7 linked regions of the Homo sapiens genome follow. The protein of the gene in region 1 purifies or fractionates together with the protein of each later gene. This does not show direct contact. Each region holds a gene or a part of one and is shown in the gene's direction. Other genes may lie near its edges.

The links.
Region 2: the proteins of MAGEB10 (region 1) and STAU1 purify together in Homo sapiens (affinity purification with mass spectrometry; 2 studies listed by BioGRID and IntAct, with this or other methods). This does not show direct contact.
Region 3: the proteins of MAGEB10 (region 1) and RSL24D1 purify together in Homo sapiens (affinity purification with mass spectrometry; 2 studies listed by BioGRID and IntAct, with this or other methods). This does not show direct contact.
Region 4: the proteins of MAGEB10 (region 1) and MRTO4 purify together in Homo sapiens (affinity purification with mass spectrometry; 2 studies listed by BioGRID and IntAct, with this or other methods). This does not show direct contact.
Region 5: the proteins of MAGEB10 (region 1) and RPF1 purify together in Homo sapiens (affinity purification with mass spectrometry; 2 studies listed by BioGRID and IntAct, with this or other methods). This does not show direct contact.
Region 6: the proteins of MAGEB10 (region 1) and RRP1B purify together in Homo sapiens (affinity purification with mass spectrometry; 2 studies listed by BioGRID and IntAct, with this or other methods). This does not show direct contact.
Region 7: the proteins of MAGEB10 (region 1) and LLPH purify together in Homo sapiens (affinity purification with mass spectrometry; 2 studies listed by BioGRID and IntAct, with this or other methods). This does not show direct contact.

The regions. Positions count from the first base shown.
Region 1 is NC_000023.11:27,810,990-27,814,489, forward strand, and holds part of MAGEB10 (melanoma-associated antigen B10), read left to right. Parts: intron 1-3,500.
Region 2 is NC_000020.11:49,118,835-49,122,334, reverse strand, and holds part of STAU1 (double-stranded RNA-binding protein Staufen homolog 1), read left to right. Parts: intron 1-2,206; coding exon 2,207-2,353; intron 2,354-3,500. UniProt on the Homo sapiens protein: Binds double-stranded RNA (regardless of the sequence) and tubulin.
Region 3 is NC_000015.10:55,186,942-55,190,441, reverse strand, and holds part of RSL24D1 (probable ribosome biogenesis protein RLP24), read left to right. Parts: intron 1-3,500. UniProt on the Homo sapiens protein: Involved in the biogenesis of the 60S ribosomal subunit. Ensures the docking of GTPBP4/NOG1 to pre-60S particles.
Region 4 is NC_000001.11:19,254,805-19,257,716, forward strand, and holds part of MRTO4 (mRNA turnover protein 4 homolog), read left to right. Parts: coding exon 1-36; intron 37-1,143; coding exon 1,144-1,247; intron 1,248-2,259; coding exon 2,260-2,341; intron 2,342-2,649; coding exon 2,650-2,717; intron 2,718-2,912. UniProt on the Homo sapiens protein: Component of the ribosome assembly machinery. Nuclear paralog of the ribosomal protein P0, it binds pre-60S subunits at an early stage of assembly in the nucleolus, and is replaced by P0 in cytoplasmic pre-60S subunits and mature 80S ribosomes.
Region 5 is NC_000001.11:84,489,266-84,492,765, forward strand, and holds part of RPF1 (ribosome production factor 1), read left to right. Parts: intron 1-367; coding exon 368-463; intron 464-1,053; coding exon 1,054-1,207; intron 1,208-3,500.
Region 6 is NC_000021.9:43,687,060-43,690,559, forward strand, and holds part of RRP1B (ribosomal RNA processing protein 1 homolog B), read left to right. Parts: intron 1-456; coding exon 457-1,181; intron 1,182-3,228; coding exon 3,229-3,381; intron 3,382-3,500. UniProt on the Homo sapiens protein: Positively regulates DNA damage-induced apoptosis by acting as a transcriptional coactivator of proapoptotic target genes of the transcriptional activator E2F1.
Region 7 is NC_000012.12:66,124,251-66,127,750, reverse strand, and holds part of LLPH (protein LLP homolog), read left to right. Parts: intron 1-3,500. UniProt on the Homo sapiens protein: In hippocampal neurons, regulates dendritic and spine growth and synaptic transmission.

The DNA.
Region 1 (3,500 bases):
CCTCCCTCCAACTGCATACTCTGGGATATCAAGTGGAAGAGGGCCTTTCTCTGATTGGTATAGGCCTCAAGTCCTCAGAGGGGAAGGTATGAGGCTGTCAAGGTGAGGAGTCATTAGGAGGAACCTGAATTTCCAGAAGTAAAAGAGGATTCATAGAGCCCTAAGAGTGCTGTCTTTCCTGATAGGGGTCCCTGGGGAAGATACATCTGAGGCCTCCCTAATATCTTTATCAGGAATGTCAGGGATGTGAAGGCCTTGCTTGGAGGGGATAGGTTTCAGGTAAGCAAAAGGAGGGCAATCAGACCCTCCAAGAAGCAAAAGTAAAGACTGAGGACTGAAAACTAATTACCTCAAGATAAAGAGGGTCTCACCGATCTCTGCATTGCTGCCATTCCACAATGTCCCCCTGCAAATGTGGTCACATGAGATTCCCCCTCAATTTCTTGTCTGGGGAGTCAAGGATATGAGCGCTTTGGAATGAGGGAGTCAGCATCAAAACAGTTCAGCAGTGAGATAACAGGTCCTGCCAGAAGTCAAGGTGATGGCCCTGAATGTGAATTGAAAGAAACATCGTCTACCCCAGAAAAAAAGGAAGCTCCATAGAGTCTGGACCTGCCAGTCACTGTATCAGTCCCAGTAAGATGCAGGTAATACTGGCAGGCTTCAGCAAAGGTACAGTCTAGTTACTTCCACTGATTCCTCAGGGGAAAGGCCCTTCAGAGAAGAGTAGCCTCATAGGATCCTTGAACAGTGTTCTCAAAGAAACCTACAGAAGCAACTTCCATAAAGTCAAGGTGATATCTTCCTGCTGGAGGATCACACCTTCTTTCCTTGAGGTCACTTCATCACCTGCCATCTGTCTCACACTACTACTTACCTCTGAGCAGAGTCATAATGCCTCGGGGTCAGAAAAGTAAGCCCCGTGCCCGTGAGAAACGCCGCCAGGCTCGAGAAGAGCCCAAGGACGTGGAAGGTGCTCAAGTCACTGTAGCAGAGGAAGGAGAGTCCCTCACTTCATCTCCTCATTTCAAAGATAGTCCTGAGAGGTCATCTGCTGTCGAAACACCCAGCAATGAGCAAGAGCCTGGGATAGCTCTAGCCATCACCACTGCTGCAGCTGTTTCATGCACAGCATCTAATGAAGGCATCGACAGCCAAGTTGAGGAAAGGTCAAATGCCTCACAGGCCCAGGCTACCACTGGGCAGTGGCCCAGAGGCCCTATAGATAAGAAGATTGCTATGTTGGTGCATTACCTGCTGTACAAATGTCAAATGCAAGAGCCCATTACAAAGGCAGATATGCTGAAAAATGTAATCCAGACGTAAAAGAGCCTCTTCCCTGAGATCCTGAGGAGAGCTTCTGATCACCTGGAGTTGGTCTTTGGCCTTGACGTGAGAGAAGTGGATCCCAACAAGAGCATCTATGTCCTTGTCAACAAACTAGAATTAGGCCATGACACAAGAGTGAATCCTAACAGAAGTTTGCCCAAGAATGGCCTGCTGATGACCATCCTGAGTGCGATCTTCAGCCAGGGGAATTGTGCCCCTGAGGAGGAAGTCTGGAAGGTGCTAAATATGATGGGGGTATACGAGGGACAGGAGCACGTCATCTATGGAGAGCCCAGGAACCTCCTCACCAAAGATTTAGTGCAAGAGCAGTACCTGGAGTATTGGGAAGTGCCCAACAGCAGTCCTCCAAGCTATGAATTCCTGTGGCGTCCACGAGCCTATGCTGAAACCAGCAAGATGAAAGTCCTAGAGTTTTTGGCCAAGATCCATGGTACAGTCCCCAGTGCCTTCCCATCCCATTATGAAGAGGCTTTGAAAGATGTGGAAGAGAGATCCCAAGCCAGAATTGCAGCCAGGGCCCGTACTGCCACCATGGCCAGTGCACGTTCCAAGGCCACGTCCAGCAGCCTTGCCTGCTCCAAGTGAAGGCTGAGGAAAATGCTTTACTGTGTTTTTGAAGAGGACAGTCAGTGTTTCACTAGTGGAGGGTTGGCTGTGTCTCGTTATAACATAGTACATAACATGTTCTGGGTAACTTGGATATTTAAACGTTGTTCCTTTTAATAGAAGGTTAAAGTAGCTTAAGAATCCAAGATTATAAGTGATAGTAAGTCATACATTTATTGATGTTTGTGAGGTTTTAGAGTAGAGTTTTACTATTTTATAGAAAAAAATGGGAAAATTTCCATCTTATTTAGTGATCTCCAATGAGATAACATAGTAGTGGATTAGCCATTTCCTTGGAAATATTTTTTTAAAAAAGCAGTAAAATAGTTGGGATGAAGAAATAGAGGTAAAATGTAAAAGATGATAAATGCTTTCATTCCGTTATGTTTAGTCTGTTCTGTAAAATTAAGAGATAGATACTTAGATATGATTAGTTTATTCAACAATGTAGGAGAAGGAACATCATAATAAAACTGACTTCTTGCACACTGGCTCACTTATTTCTCAAACATTACTTGGGCATCTGTTCTTTGGAGGGAAGGCGCCATGCTGGTACTGGGAATGTCAGGATAAACAAGACCCAAGGGCACGCACTGAATTGTAGAGTCTAAGAGCAGCTGTCATGTAAGGAAGATGGTGAGATATACCCTAAGAAGTAAAGGATGAGTAAGAGAAGGTGGGAAGATCCAGATCAGAGCAGTCAAGTGAAAATGTCCTGAGGCAAGTGGGTTTGGGGCCTTAGGAAACTGCAAACCCTTCAGTGTCAGTCAATTTTGTTAGTCTGGATAGTGGGTTGGTTGAGGCTGTGGGAGTACAGAGCAGGGGCCAGATCCTCAAAAAGACTAATGCCTAGAATGAAGAAGTGCTTTTAGCAGTTATTTTGAGGTAATAGATAAACCAGAAATAATTGTAAGATGGGAATGGAAGGTGTCTTGCATCCTTTTCCAGTGTCATTTTTCCAGTGCAGTTGGGCACAGTCCACAAACTATGTTTTATGCACATCAGCTCCAGGGACCTTCTGAGAATCAAGGGTGACCTGACATGAATGTGCTCAAAAGCCATTGTGCTGGCATTATTTGCTCTGGCCTGGGAGAAACAAGAGCCCACTAAACCCACTTAATTAAAAGGGCTTTTAAAAAAACTTGTACTTTAAGTTCCTGGATACATGTGCAGAATGTGCAGGTTTGTTATATAGGTATGCATGGGCCATGGTGGTTTGCTGCACCTATTGACCCATCATCTAGGCTCCCTCCCCCTGCCCCTCACACCCCAACAGGACCCGGTGTGTGTTGTTCCTAAAAGGGCATTTTTATTAGGTTGTCTTTAGTATCATTTGGCAAACTCAAGTGAGGGCTAGATTTTTGATGCGAGTGAAAGAAATGAAAATAGGGGTGGTTTGGATGGAAGGATAGTTGAAGGGATGGAAGGAATTAGTCTTTGACATAAATTATAGGAGTCTTGAATCCAACTGGGGAAGACTACCCCACACCCGCAATAAATAAGAAATCCTCAAATTTGCAAAGTAAATAACTGAGTTTTACTTG
Region 2 (3,500 bases), on another chromosome or scaffold:
ATCAAGAGATCTGTTCCTCTTCCTCCTAATTCTTATGGAGTCTGGAATCTAGGGTTACCTCTTCCTTAGATTGGGTGACACTTCAGATTAGTATGGAACATTTCTTTGTACTTAGCTGATTAAGTTCAAAGCTAAGTGGTCATTTCACATAGGCAGCTTAACTTAATTGTGATTTGAATTTAAGTGCTTTCTGATGTAAGACAGAATCCTTATCTCTTGTATAGCAATTTATAACTTAGAAAGTTGACCTCGTATATTTTACCTATGCAGTCAGAAGGTAGGAAAAGAATGATCCTTTCATTCCACAAAAGGAAGTTGCAGTTTGCTGAGAGGATCAGTAGTTTGCCCAAGATGAAATGGCTGGTAGATGGCCAGGTTGGAATTTAGTCCCAGGCCAGGGAATGGTTTCTTTGACTCTCTGAGTCTTGTGACCTGGGCTTTTGGTTTTAGCAGCCAGGTGCCTGTTATTACAATCAACTTGGAAGGGGGTTGTAAGTAGTGATGTGCTGGAACATGTTTAACAACCAGCTCTTCTTCGGGGAGGGTGGTTTGGTGGAATGAGCTGAATATGTATGTTATAGATATATACATGGGTGTTATATACATGTGTGTTATAAATTTTACTGACACAAAGGATGTGTGTTATAAATTATACTGACATATATGTGTGTTTTATAAATTTTACTGACAGAAAGGATGTGTAGTACAATTTATAAATAATATACACTTTATTGTAAATTTCATACATATTTCAGTGTGACAGTTACCAACGATAGTGTTATAAAATCAGACAGCACATAATGGTTTATTACTATCCAGTTCAGCAAAGGTGTTGCTCATGTCACTGACAAATACATACTGTAGATTTGAGATTTTGGTTGTAGCATGAATACTGGTTGAGATACATTTTTTTTGGGGTAGAGGGGAATGGAGTCAACTTGCTCTGTTGTCCAGGCTGCAGGGCAGTGGTGTGATCTCGGCTCACTGCAACCTCTGCCTCCCAGGTTCAAGTGATTCTCCTGCCTCAGCCTCCCGAGTAGCTGGGATTCACGGGTGCCCACCATCACGCCCAGCTACTTTTTGTATTTTTAGTAGAGATGGGGTTTCACCATGTTGGCCAGACTGGTCTCGAACTCCTGACCTCAGGTGATCCACCCACCTCAGCCTCCCAAAGTGCTGGGATTACAGGCGTGAGCCACCACGCCCGGCTGGTTGATGTTTTTTATTTATGTTAATAGGTAAGATGAAAGTAAAACAGGCTGGGCTTGATGGCTTACGCCTGTAATCCCAGCATGACGGATCACTTGAGGTCAGGGGTTCGAGACCAGCCTGACCAACATGGTGAACCCTCATTTCTGCTAAAAATAGAAAAGTTAGCCAGGCATGGTGGCACACGCCTGTAATCCCAGCTACTCGGGTGGCTGAGGCAGGAGAATCGCTTGAACCTGGGAAGTGGAGGTTGCAGTGAGCTGAGATCATGCCATTGCACTCCATCCTGGGTGAAGAAGTGAGACCCTGTCTATCCCAAAAAAGAAAAAAGAAAAAGTGAAACAATGAAGACATGTAACATCACTCATTTGTAAATGATATGAGTGGCTTCTCTGCAAAATTAGATAATTTTCAAAGACGGGAAGATATTTCAGTTTTTTGTGCTAGTTACAATGTAATGGCTGCAGACTTCTCATGCTTTTAAGATTAACCTGCTTTATTAACCTTTTCATCATTGTAGGTTTAGAGTTAGACAATAAACAGCTTATGATCTTTGATACGTAGCATTTGTATATTTCTGTGGTATAAATAGTCCCACCATGGCTGATTTCAAGCTCTCAAAGTGATACTTCCAATGGCAATGCTGGGAATAGATGTACAGTAGTTCACCATCACAGACTGTTTCCATTGTACAAATGCAATAGCTGGGCAGACCCTCAGAACACAGATGATTATAAAATGCAGTCAAAAATTACCTCTGTTAAAATAATTATCAGCTTATATAATTAAATGTTTAATACTGGCTGTGTTTAACAGCCAGCTTCCCAAACTCCTGACTATTTAATAATTAGCTCTCAGAGACAAGGAGGCCAGGTTCGGGGCACTGCTGTTATCTTGCTTCTGACCATAGTTGGTTATTTTGCTGACACACCAATTCCTGCCTGGTTGTTATTCTGAAGGTTTAAGCACTGGTCTGTGTTTTGACTTCTTTGTGCAGGTGAAGGTTGGAAACCACACTGCAGAAGGAACGGGCACCAACAAGAAGGTGGCCAAGCGCAATGCAGCCGAGAACATGCTGGAGATCCTTGGTTTCAAAGTCCCGCAGGCGCAGCCCACCAAACCCGCACTCAAGTCAGAGGAGAAGGTGAGTGCTGTGGGCTCTCTGATTGCAAGATGGTCTCTCGCCTCACCCTAGGGAACTGGGGCACCTCCAGGGGCAGGCTTCAAGGCAAGGCTTTATCTGCCTGACAGTTCAAGGAGTCCTGCTGAGGAGTGTCTCATCCATTTGGACCATAATGTGCTCAGAGGGGCCTCGCATGTCCACTGGCCCCAGGAGGCTCTGGGTTAGATCGTTGATTGTGTCAGTATCTTTGTGGTCTGGGGACGCTTTGTGGAGGGCAGCTTGCTCCTCTCTATTTGTAGGATGAGGATGAAGGGTAATTAGGACTGAAATTACTAAGTGTGATTTGCACTCTAGAAATGAAGCCTGTGTGAAAGATTTATAACTGTTAGGCTTTCGTTAATTGTGGAATAGGCTTTGATTTTTCTGGCAAAATAAGACAGTGTGACAGTAGAGACAGGCCAAATCCAAAGTTTAGGTTTGGGATTTCTTTTTTCCTATGTGAGTTAAACATCAGATGAAAATAATCCCCTGTTGAAAAATTCACGGCCAGGTGTGGTGGCTCAAACTTGTAATTTGGGAGGCTGAGGCCTTGAATCCAGGAGTTCAAGACCAGTCTGAGCAACATGATGAAACCCTGTCTCTACAAAAAATTAAAATATCAGCCAGGTATGGTGGCTTGTACCTGTAGCCCGAGCTACAAGGCTGAGATGGGAGGATTGAGCCTTGGAAGGTCAAGGCTGCAGTGAGCTGTGATCATGCCACTGCACTCAGCCTGGGCGACAGACCCTGTCTCAACAACAACAAAAAAGGAACGTAAAAAGAAAAATTCGTGTCTGCCAGAAGTGGTAAGCAGGACCTCAGCAAAAGCCATGGCTGACCTTCTTCTTTCCCATCACTGAATGGTCCTGGTGAGATAAACTTGAAATCAGGCCTGATTCATTCATGTCTGCCAGTCATATTGACAGAAACAGCATCAGTCATGGCCAGTTAATAACTGACTGGGACCCCAGATACCACCAGTATAGATCTTAGACTTGGCTTTAGGGTTTTTCATTTCAGAATCTTGTAGGACATTCAGAGTGTCCTTTGTTACTTCTTAGAAAGGTGATGTTGTGTTAGACAAAATTCTTAGGTAATAACATTTTCCCCGTAAGGGTGTTAATTTTGG
Region 3 (3,500 bases), on another chromosome or scaffold:
CAATAATATCTAGTTCTTGTTTTTTTTGTTTTGTTTTGTTTTGTTTTTTTTCCCTGAAATAGGCAGAAAGTTTAATGAAAAAAGTCTCATATGTAGAAAAAGTTAATCCCTTGAGCTAGCTTGTAGATTCTACCACATTTGTGTATGTTTGGGACCCTTGGCCTTGCCTTTTTTTTTTTTTTTTTTTTTTTTGAGTTGGAAAGTCTTGCTCTGTCCCACCGGCTGGAGTGCAGTGGCACGATCTCGGCTCACTGCAATCACTGCCTCCCAGGTTCAAGCAATTCTCCTGCCTCAGCCTCCCAGGTAGCTGGGATTACAGGCACATGCCACTACACCTGGCTAATTTTTGTATTTTTAGTAGAGATGGGGTTTTGCCATGTTGGCCAGGGTGGCCTTGAACTCCTGACCTCAAGTGATCCTCCCACCTTGGCCTCCCAAAGTGCTGGGATTACAGGCGTGAGCCACCATGCCTGGCACCGGCCCGGCCTTCTTTTCTTCCCATGGCTACCTTTATGCAGCCTGTAGCTATTTCTAGTATTGGGTGTGGGGGTGATGTGGTTTGTTAACCAGAGTCTGTAAGGCTTAGAATTCCACAAACTTTATTACTCTGCTAATGGATCATAGGCAGGGCATCCCTTTGTGTCCTCCAGTCAGTCACGAGACTTCAGGGGAAGAACTGAAAATTTGTGGACCTTTGTGGTAGTATTTATACCTTCTGAACCAGGGGCATCCAATCTTTGGCTTCCCTGGGCCACATTGGAAGAAGAATTGTCTTGGGGCACACAGAAAATACACTAACACTAATGATAGCTGATGAGCTAAGGGAAAAAAAAATTGCAAAAAAAATCTCTTTATGTTTTAAGAAAGTTTACGAATTTATATTGGGCCGTGGGTTGGTCAAGCTTGTTCTAAAGCTTTGTTTACCTAGGACCATGTGGAGAAACTGGAGTTTAGATTTGGAATTGCCTTTTCTGTACTTAGCCCTAATTATTGTACCCTTTGGGTCTCCCCCAACCCCTTTTTAAAAAATAAGGTCTTTTCCTTCTGCTTTATAATTAGAGGAGGAGTTAATTTCTGAAAAGCAGTTGATTTTTATTGGGTTTATTTGGTAAGGAAATAACACTTATTCAAACTCAAGGATTTCTAAAGAGATTAACTATAGGATTCTTAAATTGATTTCAAAAGGCACTCTTATCAAGGACATTATTGGAAAGTCCTGAAGCATTTCTTTTTTTTTTTTTTTTTTTTGAGATGGGAGTCTTGCTCTGTCACCCGGGCTGGAGTGTAGTGGTGGGATCTCGGCTCACTGCAATCTCCGCCTCCCGGGTTCAAGCAATTTTCCTGCCTCAGCCTCCCGAGTAGCTGGGACTACAGGCACACGCCGCCACGCCCGGCTAATTTTTTTGTATTTTAGTAGAGACGGGGTTTCACCATGTTGCCCAGGCTGGTGGTGAACTTCTGAGCTCAGGCAATCTGCCTGCCTTGGCCTCCCAAAGTGCTGGGATTACAGGCGTGAGCCTCCGCACTTGGCCAGTCCTGAGGCATTTCTGGACTTCATTCAGTTTTATTTCATTTTGACCTTTGTTGTTGTTATTATTACTTGAAGACAGCAGCTCCAGATCATTTTTACATATTTTGTAACTACTTTTACTTAGCGGGTATTTAGGTTGTTGTTGAAAAGAGTTGCATATACAATTTTAGCGATATGTGAATAATCAGTTCCATGGTCCTCCATGCTGGTGTCATGTTATTTACATTGCTCGAGAGAAATACTGCTGTGTTCTGTATGACTTCACATACTGTAATGGTAGTGTTCTCTACAGTTCTTAATTTATTTTAATTCAGTGCACATTTATTAAGCACTGCCTGTGGCATACAAAGATGAACACGTCACACACGGTCTCTGCCCTCTAGGTGCACTTACTGAGTACTCCTATTTTATTGTTTCTGTTAGGTTTTATTACAGAGTCTCATTCTCTTGCCCCCCACATTTATACATCTGTAAATTCTGTAAGAAGCAGTGCTCTATTGATTTCTTTTTTCCTGCACTGATTCTGCTTTCCTTTTTACTGGGATCCTAAAAATAGATTTTTCTGAGAAGATCTGCTAAGTGTACAGTATGAGTGCTAGGTAAATAGTATGAGAGTCTTTGGAATTTAAGATTGTTTCATGATATTTTATACAATTAAGAAAAGTTGTTTTCAGTAGTGTTCCAGAACAATATATTATTCTTCTAAGAGATTCATTGATTCTCCACACCCCTCGTATTTCAGTATCATTTGGTCTATAAACTAATCTATTGACAAGAGTTGTATATTCATTGCTTACATTATCAAATTGTGTGAGGATATGGATTAAACAACCTTTGTTAAGGTACTGATGTCTGTAGAAACAGTAGTATGTTAGAATTTCAAAAATACCGGGAAAAATAGTTTGCACTTTGTCCCTCATGGCTGTCTGTGTTGCAGGTGAATTGTTAATATCTGTCAGATTTTTTTTTATTTTTTATTTTAACTTTTTACATATTTTTGTTGAACTTTTTTTTAATCTTAATAGCTTTTGGGGTACAAGTGGTTTTTTTGGTTACATGGATTAATTGTAGATTGTCAGAATCTGAGATTTTAGTGCATCCATCACCTGAGTAGTGTACATTGTACCCAATCTATAGTTTTTACCCCTTACCCCACCCCACTCCCCCTTCTGAGTCCCATAGTCCATTATACCACTCTGTATGCCTTTGCGTGCCCATAGCTTAGCCCCTGCTTACAAGTGAGAACATACAGTGTTAGCTTTTCTATTCCTGGGTTACTTCATTTAGAATAGTGGCCTCCAGTTCCATCCAAGTTGCTGTAAAAGACATTATTTCATTCCTTTTTTTGGGTGAGAACTATTCCATCATGTATAAATACCACATTTTCTTTACCCACTTGTTGGTCGATGGGCACTTAGGTTGGTTCCATATCTTTGCAGTTGTGAATTGTACAGTTAGATGCTTCTTAGGTTCAAAATATTTCAGTATTCTGGAATATTTGGAAATACAGCATATTATTCTTTGGAAGGGATTTTCCTGCCACTTGTGTTTATTTCCCTTCTAAATAAGTTTAAAGTGTGGAAATGCTTTTGAGTACTAGAACTTGTACTTATTTTTGCTGAAAGACAAAGAAAAAAAGTTATATATCCAGCATATTATTAATTCTGAGCTACAGCATATGCAGATTTATAGTTGACATTTTCTTAGAGTTATTTATACAAACATTGCTTTAATACTAGAGGTCTCAAAGATTGTCCTGGTGGTTTTTGTTAAAATGTAGATTCAGATATAGTAGGTTTGTGTGGGGCCTGAAATCCTTCATTTCTAACAAGCTCCCAAATGATGCCACTGTTACTGGTCCCAGGCTACATTTTAAAAGTTTTTATTTTGACCTAATTTCAGATTACAGAAAAGTTGCACGAGTAGAGTTCTCTGATATCCTTCATCCAGACTCCCTGAATGTTAACAT
Region 4 (2,912 bases), on another chromosome or scaffold:
AAAGGCTTGGAATTGAAACAAAACCTGATAGAAGAGGTAAGAGGTTGTTCTTTTCTAGAGCTTGCAATTGTTTGGTTTATAAAGGTAGGTATAGGACTGTTGGCCAGGGATAGGACTGTTGGCCAGGGGAACATACTAGTGGGGAAAAAAAAAAAATCTCCAAGCTGCCAATCCAGGCCTTTTTCCTCCAGCAGCAGCACCAGCAAAAACTTCCATAGTGATGATTTCCAGCTTTGACTAGCTCGTACTCTGTGCCCTGTCCTGCACTGTGTTTCTTATGCGTTGTTCCACTCCATCCTCATAACATCCCTGTGATGTGGGTACTAGGTGATGATGTTGCTGTTTTGCATTTGGGGTCACTGAAGCTTACAGAGATTTGTTAGCCTGCCTAATGTCAAAAAACAGGAGGCCAGGAATGGTGGGCCACGCCTGTAATCCCAGCACTTTGGGAGGCCAAGTGGGTCAGACAGCTTGAGTCTGGGAGCTCAAGAGCAGCCTGGGCAACATGACAAAACCTCATCTCTACAAAAAGAAAAGAAAAAAAAACTAGCTGGACGTGGTGGTACGCAGCCTGGGCAACAGAGTGAGACCCTGTCTTTAAAAAAAAAAAAAAAGAGCTGGGAGATTTACCAGGTGTAGGTGACTGCACCAACCCACTGTCTGTACAGCTTCTGACCTGCCAACCTGGGCTGCAGGCTGGGTGAAACAGTCTCCTCCTGCACAATGACTCCACTCCTAGAGGCTGCCTCATGGTGGCTTTGGCCAGCACCACGTGCAGAGCAGTACCGATCAGCTGCCTCCCCTTATAACAGAGAGGCTCCATGTGTTTCCATGTAGCAGGACCCTTCCTAATGTGGGTGAATGTTTCTAGGTTAACAGCTGATGATCAGTTCCACTGTTGGTCATAAATAAGTGAGAGACCTGGAAAAGGCCGTGGGGTGTAGATCCATGGCTCAGCCTCCCCTGTGGTTAGGGATCCTAATTTCAGTAATGGAGGTAGGAGACAACCAAATTAGAGGCCTCCAGTTCTTCCAGTTTCCATAGTTGTCAGGGGCCCAGAGCAGATTCATTCTCATCTGAGGCCAGAGTAGTGCCCGTTGTATGCTGCTGCTTGAACTCAGAGCCTCGTGAATTGTCCCACAGCTTCGGAAATGTGTGGACACCTACAAGTACCTTTTCATCTTCTCTGTGGCCAACATGAGGAACAGCAAGCTGAAGGACATCCGGAACGCCTGGAAGCACAGCCGGTGAGCGGGCAGGGGGAGGAAGGCCCTTCTGAGTGGGGACCCGGCCAGGCTGCTCTCAGTCAAAGCACAGGAGCAATTTCTGACCCTTTAGGTGCCTGGGTCATGCCGCTGACACCTTAATAAGGACAAAGTGCTACCTGCCACTGAAGAGCACTTCCTTTTCACTGTTAAAGCTGGTCTTGGGCAGGGTGCGGTGGTTCACGCCTGTAATCCTGGCACTTTGGGAGGCTGAGGCAGGGGGATCACCTGAAGTCAGGAGTTTGAGACCAGCCTGGCCAACATGGCGAAACCCCTTCTCTACTGAAAATACAAAAATTAGCCGGGCATGGTGGCAGGCACCTATAATCCCAGCTACTCAGGAGGCTGAAGCAGAAGAATCACTTGAACCCATGAGGCAGAGGCTGCAATGAGCTGAGATTGCACCATCGCACTCCAGCCTGGGTGACAGAGTGAAACTCCACCTCAAAAAGCAGATTTTGCACTGAGCTCCTAGGGGCAGGACTTGGCAGTTGCTCAGGAGATGTTTGAGAGGTGGGCCTTTCCGGAGAAGTGGCCCTTTAACCCTGGACTGTGGGCCATTTAGGAGCATCACACCAGTTTTAGAATGTCAGTAGGGACACTGCGACACAGACAGTGACCTGGGAGCAGGATGCAGGAGCCACATGGCAAGTTTCTGTCCTGGGGCAGGTGGCTCTGGTGGTGGTCTCTTGCCGCACCAGCTCTGGTTCAGGCTGTTAACATGCCTCCCGCATACATCCAGATAGAGAACTGGTACATGATGCTCGTGATGGGCTGGGAGACAAAATGTTGCCATGTCAGGAGTCTGTGGGTGGGAACATAATGAAAGGGACCCCAACGTGGGGACAGTGTGGCCAGGCAGCATGGAGAAGTGGGTGCCACTGGCTCAGCCTGGGCCTGAGCTCACTGGGGACCGGAGCTACTTTGCATGTTGCTGAGGGATGGGGAGGGCAGGGCTCTTCCTTCACAGAATGCTCTTTCTCTTGCTTGGTAGGATGTTCTTTGGCAAAAACAAGGTGATGATGGTGGCCTTGGGTCGGAGCCCATCTGATGAATACAAAGACAACCTGCACCAGGTAAGTCTCTGGCCCTCACGGGGTGGAGCTAAGGCAAAGCCGCCCTCTCTCCCACTACTCCCATGTGACAGCCTCCCCCAGCCATTGGCAGGCCGGAGGCTCAGGGAGAGCAGGGCCTGGCTTAAAGCTCTGGGTTCTCCCTTCACCTCCGGACCCAAGGAATAGCAGCTTCCTGCCTCCCACTCCTTCCTGCTATGACAACCAAAAACGTCTTTAAATGTTGCCAAATGTACCCGGTGAGCAAAAACGTGCCTAGTAGAGAACCACTGCTCTAATGTGACCAAGCTGTCCTCACTCCTGATTTGTAGGTCAGCAAAAGGTTGAGGGGTGAGGTGGGTCTCCTGTTCACCAACCGCACAAAGGAGGAGGTGAATGAGTAAGTACTGCTGAGGAACGGAGGGAAAGAGGCGGGTGAGAGGGGATTTCAGGGAGGGAATGATGCAGGAACTTCGTTCCATATGTGGCATCAAGTTGGAACTGCTCCTGGAAGCCTGTCACTGAGCTAGTGGCCTGGGACCACAGCCCTCTCTGTCCTCTCCAGCATGGTGCTCTGGGCTGGCTGCTGGCCAGC
Region 5 (3,500 bases), on another chromosome or scaffold:
CTCGTAATTTCATTAGTTTTTTTTGGTTCTTTTTTTGTTTGTTTGTTTTGTTTTTTTTGTGGTTATTGTTTTTACTAACCAAGTTGATGAGGGAAATGAAAGTAGTTCAAGAGTAAACACATCTCAGTTTCTGCCCTGAAGTGATTTCTGACAATTTTATTCAGTTTTGTACTTGTATTTTACACAGGAGAAATCCACTCATCCATTCTCTTCACGTGTCCATTAATGTCAGTCCTTCCTAGTCTGTCTTTAAAGCCCCTATCAGCTAGATACTCAGTGTCCAACAGTCCTGCTGATGCTACTTTTAGAATTCTGGCCCAGTAGAGTATTTCTTTGATGTAAAATTATTCCTCTTCTCTGTTCTCAGGTCGCTTATGATGAAGCTACAGATGAATTTGCTTCTTACTTCAACAAACAGACTTCTCCCAAGATTCTCATCACAACATCAGATAGACCTCATGGGGTAAACACATTGATTAATTTAGTTCTTGAATTCTTAATTTTCTTATTACTTCTATTTAAAGTACTCTGTTCAGAAGAGTTAAACCATTAGTTAATTGCCTTAAAGAATGCCTGTGACTAAGTAAATAAAACGTAGCTCTGGTAATATGATGTAGGTTTACTAAACATGATTCTTCAAGATAGGATTTCTCAACCTCAACATTGTTAACATTTTAGCTGGAGAATTCTTTGTTATGGTGAGCTATCCTGTTCATTACAGGATGTTTAGCAGCTTCCCTGGCCTCTATGCTTTAGGTGCCAGTAGCAACCACACACCACTACCACTACCATCAGTCATAACCATCAAAAATGTCTCCAGACATTGCCAAATGTGTCCTCTGATGGAGCAGAATCGCCCCTAATTGAGAACCACTGCTTTAGGATGATCAGCCTTTGATAAAAGAGGACACACTGTTCGAGTTTCATGCTTTCCTCAATGTTGCTTTCTATTAATCATAATAATTATTATTTCTTTCCTTATGAATATGTACCACATAAGATTTTTATTCTTTTTTGAAAACTATTCAAAATTTTTGTTATTTTGTTTTGCAGAGAACAGTACGACTCTGTGAACAGCTCTCCACAGTTATACCAAACTCACATGTTTATTACAGAAGAGGACTGGCTCTGAAAAAAATTATTCCACAGTGCATCGCAAGAGATTTCACAGACCTGATTGTTATTAATGAAGATCGTAAAACCCCAAGTATCCTTTTTTTTTTTAAGGAGGTTTTCCTGTCCTCTCCCTCACCCCCCTTAAAAATATATTTAAAAGAATAAGGAAATATTGCCTATAACTTTCAGAAAATAATTTTTTTATCAGAAAATTGTATCTCTTTCCAAGAGTCTATAAACTGATTTTTCCTTTGTATTCACCAAACATTTATCAGGCACATGCTACAGCCAAGAGATTGTTGTAACTCTTAGTAAAAGATGCAGAGCTAAAACAAGAGACAACCAGGAAATTCATAGGTGGAGTAAATGGATATGTAAACTGACAAAATATAGTGTGGATGGTACAATTAAATAGAGAAATGCAGGATATAGTGGGGACCCTGTGACTGGTACAAAGTCTGCCCTGGGAGGAAAGACTTCCCATAGAAAGAGATGCTGAAGCTGGATCTAGATGGATGAGGGTGAAGGAGGGGAATAAGGCAGAGAAAAGCGCTCAGTGCAGAGGGACTACCATTTGGAAAGAGAGGAAGGAAAGGGCTGACCTAGTTGGGGATCTGCATATGGTTTGTTGTGGCTAGATTTTACATTGCCAGAGGTGGTATCACAGGATTAAGTTTTTGAGGTAGAGACTTGGGCCCATGTTATGTGTGTGTTCCAGTCTAAAACTTTTTCTGTGAGTCTCAGACCTGAGATGAATGTGTCACCTGAACCCAAGGTATTTCTTCCTGTTGAGATAAGAGATTTGATAAAGGATATCTAGGTTTGTTATTATTGTTGCTGTTTTATTTATTTATTTATTGAATGATGGCTATGAGTTCAGTAACCTTAAAGATGACCAATTGAATGAGTCATCTTTATGATTTTTAATTTCATTAAAATAAAATTATAAAGAATTTACAAAATAGGGACAAGACTTTCTGTGCTGCCAGAATAACATTTTATTTCTAATATCAGTGAACACTCTATTAGTGGTTTAAAAGGCTGTTTTTAAAAAATCTAACTTTTATGACTTTAATTGTTATCAATATAACTTACTTTATCCACTTGTACTAGTAGCTTTCCAGAAACTACTATAACAAGCTTTGTAATGTGTTTTGTTGGCCATATTATAATTTGGCTTAACTGGATTAATGTACCAAAATATCTAAAATCTCTTGAATACTTAACTACTCCAGAAAAAAATTATTTTTAAGGTAGTTGCTGCCTCTTTTTCTTTTTTTAAACTGCCTCCACAAAGTGGCAAGGTCTGTTTTCCTCTTTTTATTTTTGGCAGTTAAAAAACAACTGTCATCACTTTGAGGCCACTAGTAACTCTGCTAAGAAGCAGGCATTCATCAATTCAATAAATGTTCTATCCCTGTTTTATCCAGGGTGTTTTATATAGTCACACAAATTTCACTTATACCATCTATTGCCTTTAAAAAGTTTACATTTTCTGGCCGGATGCGGTGGCTCACACCTGTAGTCCCAGCACTTTGGGAGGCCTAGGCCAGCAGATTGCTTGAGGTCAGGAGTTTGAGACCAGCCTAGCCAACACAGCAAAATCCCATCTCTACTAAAAATACAAAAATTAGTTGGGCGTGTTGGTGCATGCCTGTAATCCCACCTACTTGGGAGGCTGATGCACTAGAATTACTTGAACCCGGGAGGCAAAGGTTGCCATGAGCAGAGATGGTGCCACTGCACTCCAGCCTGGGTGACAGGGCAAGACTCTGTCAAAAAAAAAAAAATGGTGATTATCCTAGAGACTTAGCATGGGTTCAGGAATAAAAATCACAACTCCTAATGGTGACACATGGGGGGAAAGTTGAAAAAACAGGATTTAGCCTGTGGGAAAGTAGATTCTAGGAACATGGCGTCTTTCTAAAGACCATTGGAGGGGCTACTGTGTGGAAGAGTAGTGCTGAATGGTGAAAGTTAAAGGGATATACTTTTTTGACTTATTCTAAAATAGAATTTCATCAGCTGTCTAAACTGTAGAAACCTAGTAGTGGCTTTGAGTCAGGGCAGCTGTGATATCAAATACAGATTCCATTATTTTCTAGTTTTGTGATTTTAGTCACGTTTCTTAGCCACTCAATTTCCTCGTTTTTTAAATGTGGGAAATAATACCTATCTTTAGAGTTCCCACAAAGATCACATTAAATGTATTATGTTTATAAAGCATAGTGTCTGGCACATGGTAGGCATTTTAGTAAACGTGGTATAGTGAGAAGCATGTAAACTTTATCTGTACAGACCTACATCCTCTATTCATTATTTCTAAATGGGGAACTACTGTTATTTGAGGTAGGGTAATTATTTGTGCTACACTCTTGGCAGCT
Region 6 (3,500 bases), on another chromosome or scaffold:
TTAATGGCTGAGAGGTAAAGGCGGTTTTCCAAGTGTTGTGCTGTTTTTGGTGGAGCCGCGTCCCCACCTCACCCCGCTCACGTCCGCCTGCTCTCCAGGGCACCTCTGCAGGGAAGCAGGAGCTGCAGGGAGCACTGGGGGGCGGCTGTTTGATGACCACTCGAGATCTATGGTTTTTACCCTTGAGCCCTAAAATTAGTGGAAATGGGACTATTTCAGTTCCATATGTGTTTATAAACGGACAGAAGGAAGGCTTCCAGTCACAGTTGGGGATGGAGGAAGTGGGACCAGACGACAAAGGTAGTGGGCGCACCAAGTACCTCAAGGGAGACAGGAACTTTCCTCGTGGTAGAATGTCAGGAAATTGCGTCCGCCAGTCATACTGTCTGAGAATCGCCAGCAGGACTCTGGCCCAGCTGGCACTGGGTGCTTGTTGATGGGTTTCTGTCTTTTTAGGAAGCAGAGTCTTTTGTGTAGAGGAAGAGGACAGTGAAAGCAGTCTTCAAAAGAGAAGAAGGAAGAAGAAGAAGAAGCACCACCTGCAGCCTGAAAATCCAGGCCCAGGGGGTGCAGCCCCATCCCTGGAACAGAACCGGGGCAGGGAGCCCGAGGCCTCTGGGCTGAAAGCCCTGAAGGCACGTGTGGCCGAGCCAGGTGCAGAGGCCACGTCCAGCACTGGGGAGGAGAGTGGCTCCGAGCATCCTCCAGCCGTCCCCATGCACAATAAAAGGAAACGGCCACGGAAGAAGAGCCCGAGGGCCCACAGGGAAATGTTGGAATCAGCAGTGTTGCCCCCAGAGGACATGTCTCAGAGTGGCCCGAGTGGCAGTCATCCTCAGGGACCTAGAGGGTCCCCGACAGGTGGAGCCCAACTCCTAAAAAGGAAGCGGAAACTTGGAGTTGTGCCCGTCAATGGCAGTGGCCTGTCCACGCCGGCCTGGCCTCCATTGCAGCAGGAAGGCCCTCCCACAGGCCCCGCAGAGGGGGCGAACAGCCACACCACGCTGCCCCAGCGCAGGAGGCTGCAGAAAAAGAAGGCAGGGCCCGGCAGCCTGGAGCTCTGTGGCCTGCCCAGCCAGAAAACAGCAAGTTTGAAAAAGAGGAAGAAAATGAGAGTGATGTCAAACTTGGTGGAGCACAACGGGGTGCTGGAGTCCGAAGCTGGGCAACCCCAGGCTCTGGTAAGGTGGGAGCACCCACAGGCCAGCTCGCCACAGAGGCACTCACTCGCGTCCATGGGGCTCCACTGCCTCCTGAGAGGAAGGGTGGGGGCTGGCGGCCAGGCCTCTGGACTCAGCAGCAGTTAGAATAGGGTGTGTTCATAACAGCCTTCACTAAGGAGGAAATCACAGGTGACCAGTACTTCGGTCCTCCTCATCGGCCACCTTCACTCCCTTAGGCCACATGCTTGGGTTCGGGAGGGCCCACTCCAAGCTGGGAAAGTTATCCCTTGGGCCAGGCACTCCTGCCCCAGGCGTGTTCAGGCCAGTCTAGGCCTCTGTCAAAGGCAGGTCTGGTTTTCTTCATCAGCGCATGGCCAGTCCAGGCCCCTTTGGCAAAAGAGGAAGCCCAAAATTCTCTTGCTTCACTCACCTTCTTTTCTATATTCTTTTCTTTTCTTAGCTTCCCCCCTACCCCCCAGCTCAAGAAACTTCACTAGCAGGACCACTTATCTTCTTAATGGAAAGACTTTCCTTCCACTTTGATTTCTAGAGCCAGATATAAATGAGGAACCAAGCTGTTGATCTGGTCTTGGGTCTGGCTGTGTCACCCAGGCTGGAGTGCGGTGGCACAATCTCGGCTCACTGCAACCTCCACCTCCCAGGTTCAAGCGATTCTTCTGCCTCTGCCTCCCAAGTAGCTGGAATTACAGATACACATCACCATGCCCAGCTAATTTTTGTTATTTTTGTAGAGACAGAGTTTTGCCTTGTTGCCCAGGCTGGGCTCAAGCAGTCCACCTGCCTCGGCCTCCCAAAGTGCGGGATTACAGGCGAGAGCCCCCGCGCCTGGCCCTGATCCGCTTTTCACACCACCTCTGGGCGCCCTGGGCTTCCAGGCCAGGGCCGGCAAACGTAGTGTCACTGCAACAGAGCCACATCCACTTGTATGTGCAGGTCTGTGGCCACTTTCATGCTGCAGCGGCAGAGGGGAGTGGTAGAGACAGAGACCTGCGGTCTGTAAAGCAGAAAATAACTCTGCCCTTCACAGAGTTTGCGCACCTTGGTCACCTCTTGGTTTGCACACACCGCTTTGCGGAGATTATGACATCTCTTGTTTAAGTGGACATGTGTGGACCTGGTGAAGCGCTGGTTTGGGGCTAAGAGTGTCTGCAAGTGGCTAGTGAGTGAGTTTATGGTCAGGAAAGCCTTACCCAGGGGCAGCAGTGCACTGAGCTGGACGGCAGGAGGCCCATTTCTAGCCTCGAGTCTCTCCTACCTCACAGTGCCGCCATCTCCTCCCTGGACTGCAGCCTGCCCCTCGTACCCTCAGCGCTGCTCCCTCACTAAGAGGGCCAGAGACATTGCCTTTCTTGCTGTCGTCTCAGGCCCCTGGCAGCCTATTGTAAAGAGGATGGGGTGTTGCTCAATAAGTCCCAGGGTCAAGGGAAGCTTTCCCCTGCCATCTGTCATGGCACAGGGAAGGCGCACAGGAGAAGCTCCTCGGGCTTCCCTGCCCTCCAGGCGGCACACTTGAACCTGCCGGAGCCACCCGTGTGTCGGCAGCGGCACTGGGCTGCCCACACCTCTGAGAGCCAAGTACGAGACCCGGTCTCTCTCTGGGTGGCTGTCAGTTGCTGCACACGCAATGAGTGTCCTGGGCCTGCCTGTGAGGGACCCACAGCCCCACATGGGCATCACTGTCCTCCACACCAGACTGCCAGCGCAGTGACGATTCAGCTACAAATGGGAGAGTCGATCTTATTAACAGATCGGCTTTGAAAGGCCAAAATCCCCATTTTGAAGATGAAGATAAAAGTGGGTCCTTACTCTGACGAGGCGTTTTCATCGCCCCTCTTGGCATGGTGCCATGATAGCGGTCGTGTTGTGCGTGAAGCCTGAGCTCTGCCGAATGGAAGGGCTGTCTGCAAGTGCGGTGCGGAAGACCGCGGGCCGTCGGGTGGGCTGGATCTGCCTGGGGCTCTGCCTTCCCCTCCTGTGTGTGTGGGCAGCACAGGAGGCTCTGTCGTCTGACCCCTCCTCCGCTTCTCACCCCTCGCTCACGTAGGGAAGCAGTGGGACTTGCAGTTCCCTGAAGAAGCAGAAGCTGAGGGCAGAGAGCGACTTTGTGAAGTTTGACACCCCCTTCTTACCAAAGCCCCTGTTCTTCAGAAGAGCCAAGAGCAGCACTGCCACCCACCCTCCAGGCCCTGCCGTCCAGGTACGCACCCTCCCCAGAGTGGCACAGCACATTTCACCACAAGGGCACAGATGGGCTTGAGCTGACAGTGCTTCCCATGCCGGGCCTGGAGCCCCACTGTGGCCCTCTGAGCCTGTCCA
Region 7 (3,500 bases), on another chromosome or scaffold:
AACACTTGCCTTCACTTGCTGTTTTCATTTCCTCACACACACATCACCCCTCCCTATTGGTTCTTTTTTGTTGTTGTTAAGGCAAAATCCACATAACATAAAATTAACCATTTTAAAGTGTACAGTTCAGTGGTATTTAGTACATTCATGTTGTGCAACCATCACCTCTAGTTCCAAAACACTTTCCTCACCCTAAAAGGAAACTTAATACCCATTAAGAAGTCTGTCTCTCCTCCTCCTACCCCCAGCCTCTGGCAACCACTAATATGCTCTTTTCATGTGTGAATTTACCTGTTTTGAATATTTCTTATAAATGGAATCATATATAATGAGACCTTTGTGCCTGGCTTATTTCCCTTAGCATGGTGCTTTTGAAGGTCACGCACATTGTAGCATATATCAGTACTTCCTTTCTTTTTAAGGCTAAATAATAGTCCATTGCATGTACCACGTTTCATATCCATTCAACGGTTGCTGGGCATTTGGATTTCTTTCCCCTTATGGGTGTTGTGAATAGTGCTGCTGTGAACATTCAGGTGCACAAGGTTTTGTTTGATAAGTGGAATTGCTGGGTCATATGGTAATTCTTTTTAATGTTCTCCACATCAGCCACACTATTTTACATTCCCACCTGCAGTGTTTGAGTATTTGAGTTTCTTCACATCCTCACTAATACTTGTTTTCCATTTTCGGATTATAGCCATCTTCGAGGGTATGAAATAGATTCTCATTGTAATTTTGATTTGAAGTTTCCTAATGACTAATGACATTGAATGAAGTGTTTTTTGGTTTTTGTTTGTTTGTTTTTTGTTTTTTTTTTTTGAGATGGAGTCTTACTGTTGCCCAGGCTGGAGTGCAGTGGCATGATCTCGGCTCACCACAACCTCTGCCTCCCAGGTTCAAGCAATTCTCCTGCCTCAGACTCCCAAGTAGCTGGGAATACAGGCGTGTGCCACCATGCCCAGCTGAATTTTGCATTTTTAGTAGGGTTGGGGTTTCACCATGTTGGCCAGGCTGGTCTTGAACTCCTGACCTCAAGTGATCCACCTGCCTCAGCCTCCCAAAGTGCTGGGATTACAGGTGTGAGCCACCACACCCGGCTGAACATTTTTTCATATGCTGATTGACCATTTGTATTATCTTTTTGGAGAAAGGTCTACTCAAGTCTTTTGCCTCGTTTTTCAATTACGTTGTTTGTCTTTTTATTATCGGGTTGTTAAGAGTTCTTTATATGTTCTAGATACCAGATGCCCACATCCACTCTTGATTCTTTTGGATTGATCCTGTTTTCTTTTCTCTCCTGTTTTCTATTTATTTTGTTATACCCTCTAATTTCCTTGACCTTGAATTCTGGTTCTTATTACTTGGTTTTCTCTTATATTTTTAATTTCTAAAAGTTTTTCTTTTTTTTTTTACTTTTTTTTTTTGAGATGAACTCTCACTCTGTCGCCCAGGCTGGAGTGCAGTGGCATGATCTCGGCTCACTGCAAGCTCCATCTCCCGGGTTCGCGCCATTCTCCTGCCTCAGCCTCCCTAGTAGCTGGGACTACAGGCGCCTGCGATCACACCCGGCTAATTTTTTGTATTTTTAGTGGAGACGGGGTTTCACCATGTTAGCCAGGATGGTCTCGATCTCCTGACCTCGTGATCCACCCGCCTCGGCCTCCCAAAGTGCTGGGATTACAGGCGTGAGCCACTGCGCCTGGCCTACTGTTCCTTTTTCATAGCTTTGTGTTCTTTGTGTTTTGTAAATGCCCCTTGAGTCATCAACTCTGTGTTCTTAATGGGCATATATCTTCTCCTAAGGGTATTAATTACAATTTGCTTTTGAAATTTTTATTTATGGTATGTATTATCTGTCTTTCCTCTTGGAATTCCCTCCCAAGCCCTTCCATTCCTTTACTTTTGTCTCTTTCTTTCATATTAGAAGCTTTTCTCAAATGTCTGGTGATCAGTGGTCATTGTTTGTATTTAAAAGTGTGGCACTACAATGATGATTGGAAGCTGGAGGGAGACAAGGTGTGGGAGAGGGTCTGTCAACTGCTAGATGTATAGAAGATTTGGAATGGCTCCAGGAGGTTTTATTCGGAGATCTCCTGTATCAGAATCTGTTAAGTCTTTTTTTTTCCTCATCATCCCCAGAGAGAAATTATCTTATGTCCTGCCTGGGGAATTCTGGATGCCCTTATTCTTAGATATTTTAGGAGCTAAAGGGTGGTGAGACTGAGACTGAGGGAGTCTCCCCATTTAGTAATCTATTTGTTATCAATTTGGCTCTCATCTCTACCCTCAAGTTCATGTTTTTCCTTATTTCTACTCTTTCAACTGCCTGCCTGATTTCTTAAGCCATAAACCTAGTAGTCATCCTTGATTCCTCTTTCCTTTATTCCCCACATCTAAACCATTAGCAAGTCTTACTGATTGTCCCAAAAATACATTAGAAATCTGTATCCATTTTTTTCCTGCTTTCACCTTGATTCAGAAGGCCGTCATCTCTTGCCTGTACTATTATAGGAGCCTTTTTACTTCTCTCTTCCGCTCTTGTTCCCTTCTCATTTATCTTCTACATATCCACCAGTGTGATCTTTTCAGAAGGTAAATCAGTTTATATCACTGCCATGCTTAAAAACCTCATTATCTTAACATGTTCTTACCAGCGCCTACCAGTTCTTTTTTTTGCGGGGAGACAGGATCTCACTTTGTTGCCCAGGCTGGAGTATAGTGGCTGTTCACAGGCGTGACCAAGCCCACAACATCCTTGAACTCCTGGCCTCAAATGATCCTCCCACCCCAGTCTCCCGAATAGCTGAGACTACAAATGCCTATAGATACTATACCTGGCTGAGGTTTTCTTTCTGTTTGCTGTGTTATTCTCCCGTCAACAGAACACTGTAAACTCCGTGAGGGCTAGGAGTTCATATGGACCACTATATCCCCATAAACTAGAACAGCACCTAAAATAATCATTCAACACCTAGTTATTGAGTGGCTGTTATATACCAGACACTATTCTAGATACTGTGGAAACAATGGCAAATATCTAATATAATGCCAGGTAGTCGAGATAATAGAAGACTTTGTGTATCCTGATAAGGAGGTCCCAGTGAGGGACTCTGAGCATGTCCTTCACAGTGGAGAAGGTGATAGGTGTACCACAGCATGTTTGCACTGAGCTTCCTGCCAAGTCTCCTATCAGTAGAGCTGGATCTCTGGGTGTTACCTAGCTAGGAAAAGTATGCCAGCCCCAGGATGTGTCCAGGTCTTCTCTGTTGAGTGCCTGTCTCTGCCATTACAACCCTGCTGCTGACTACTCCATCGAGTTCATTAGAAGTTCGTTCTCAGTTCATTATAATTTAGTTCAAGTTCTTAAGAAATGGCCAGTCATTCCTAATCAGTTCATTACATCTAAGGTGTATCCCTTAGAAGTGTAGGTATGCTTACTGAACTCAAGGAATCACTTAATATGAGAAATGTTGTTGTAACTCACATGTGCTCAGAAC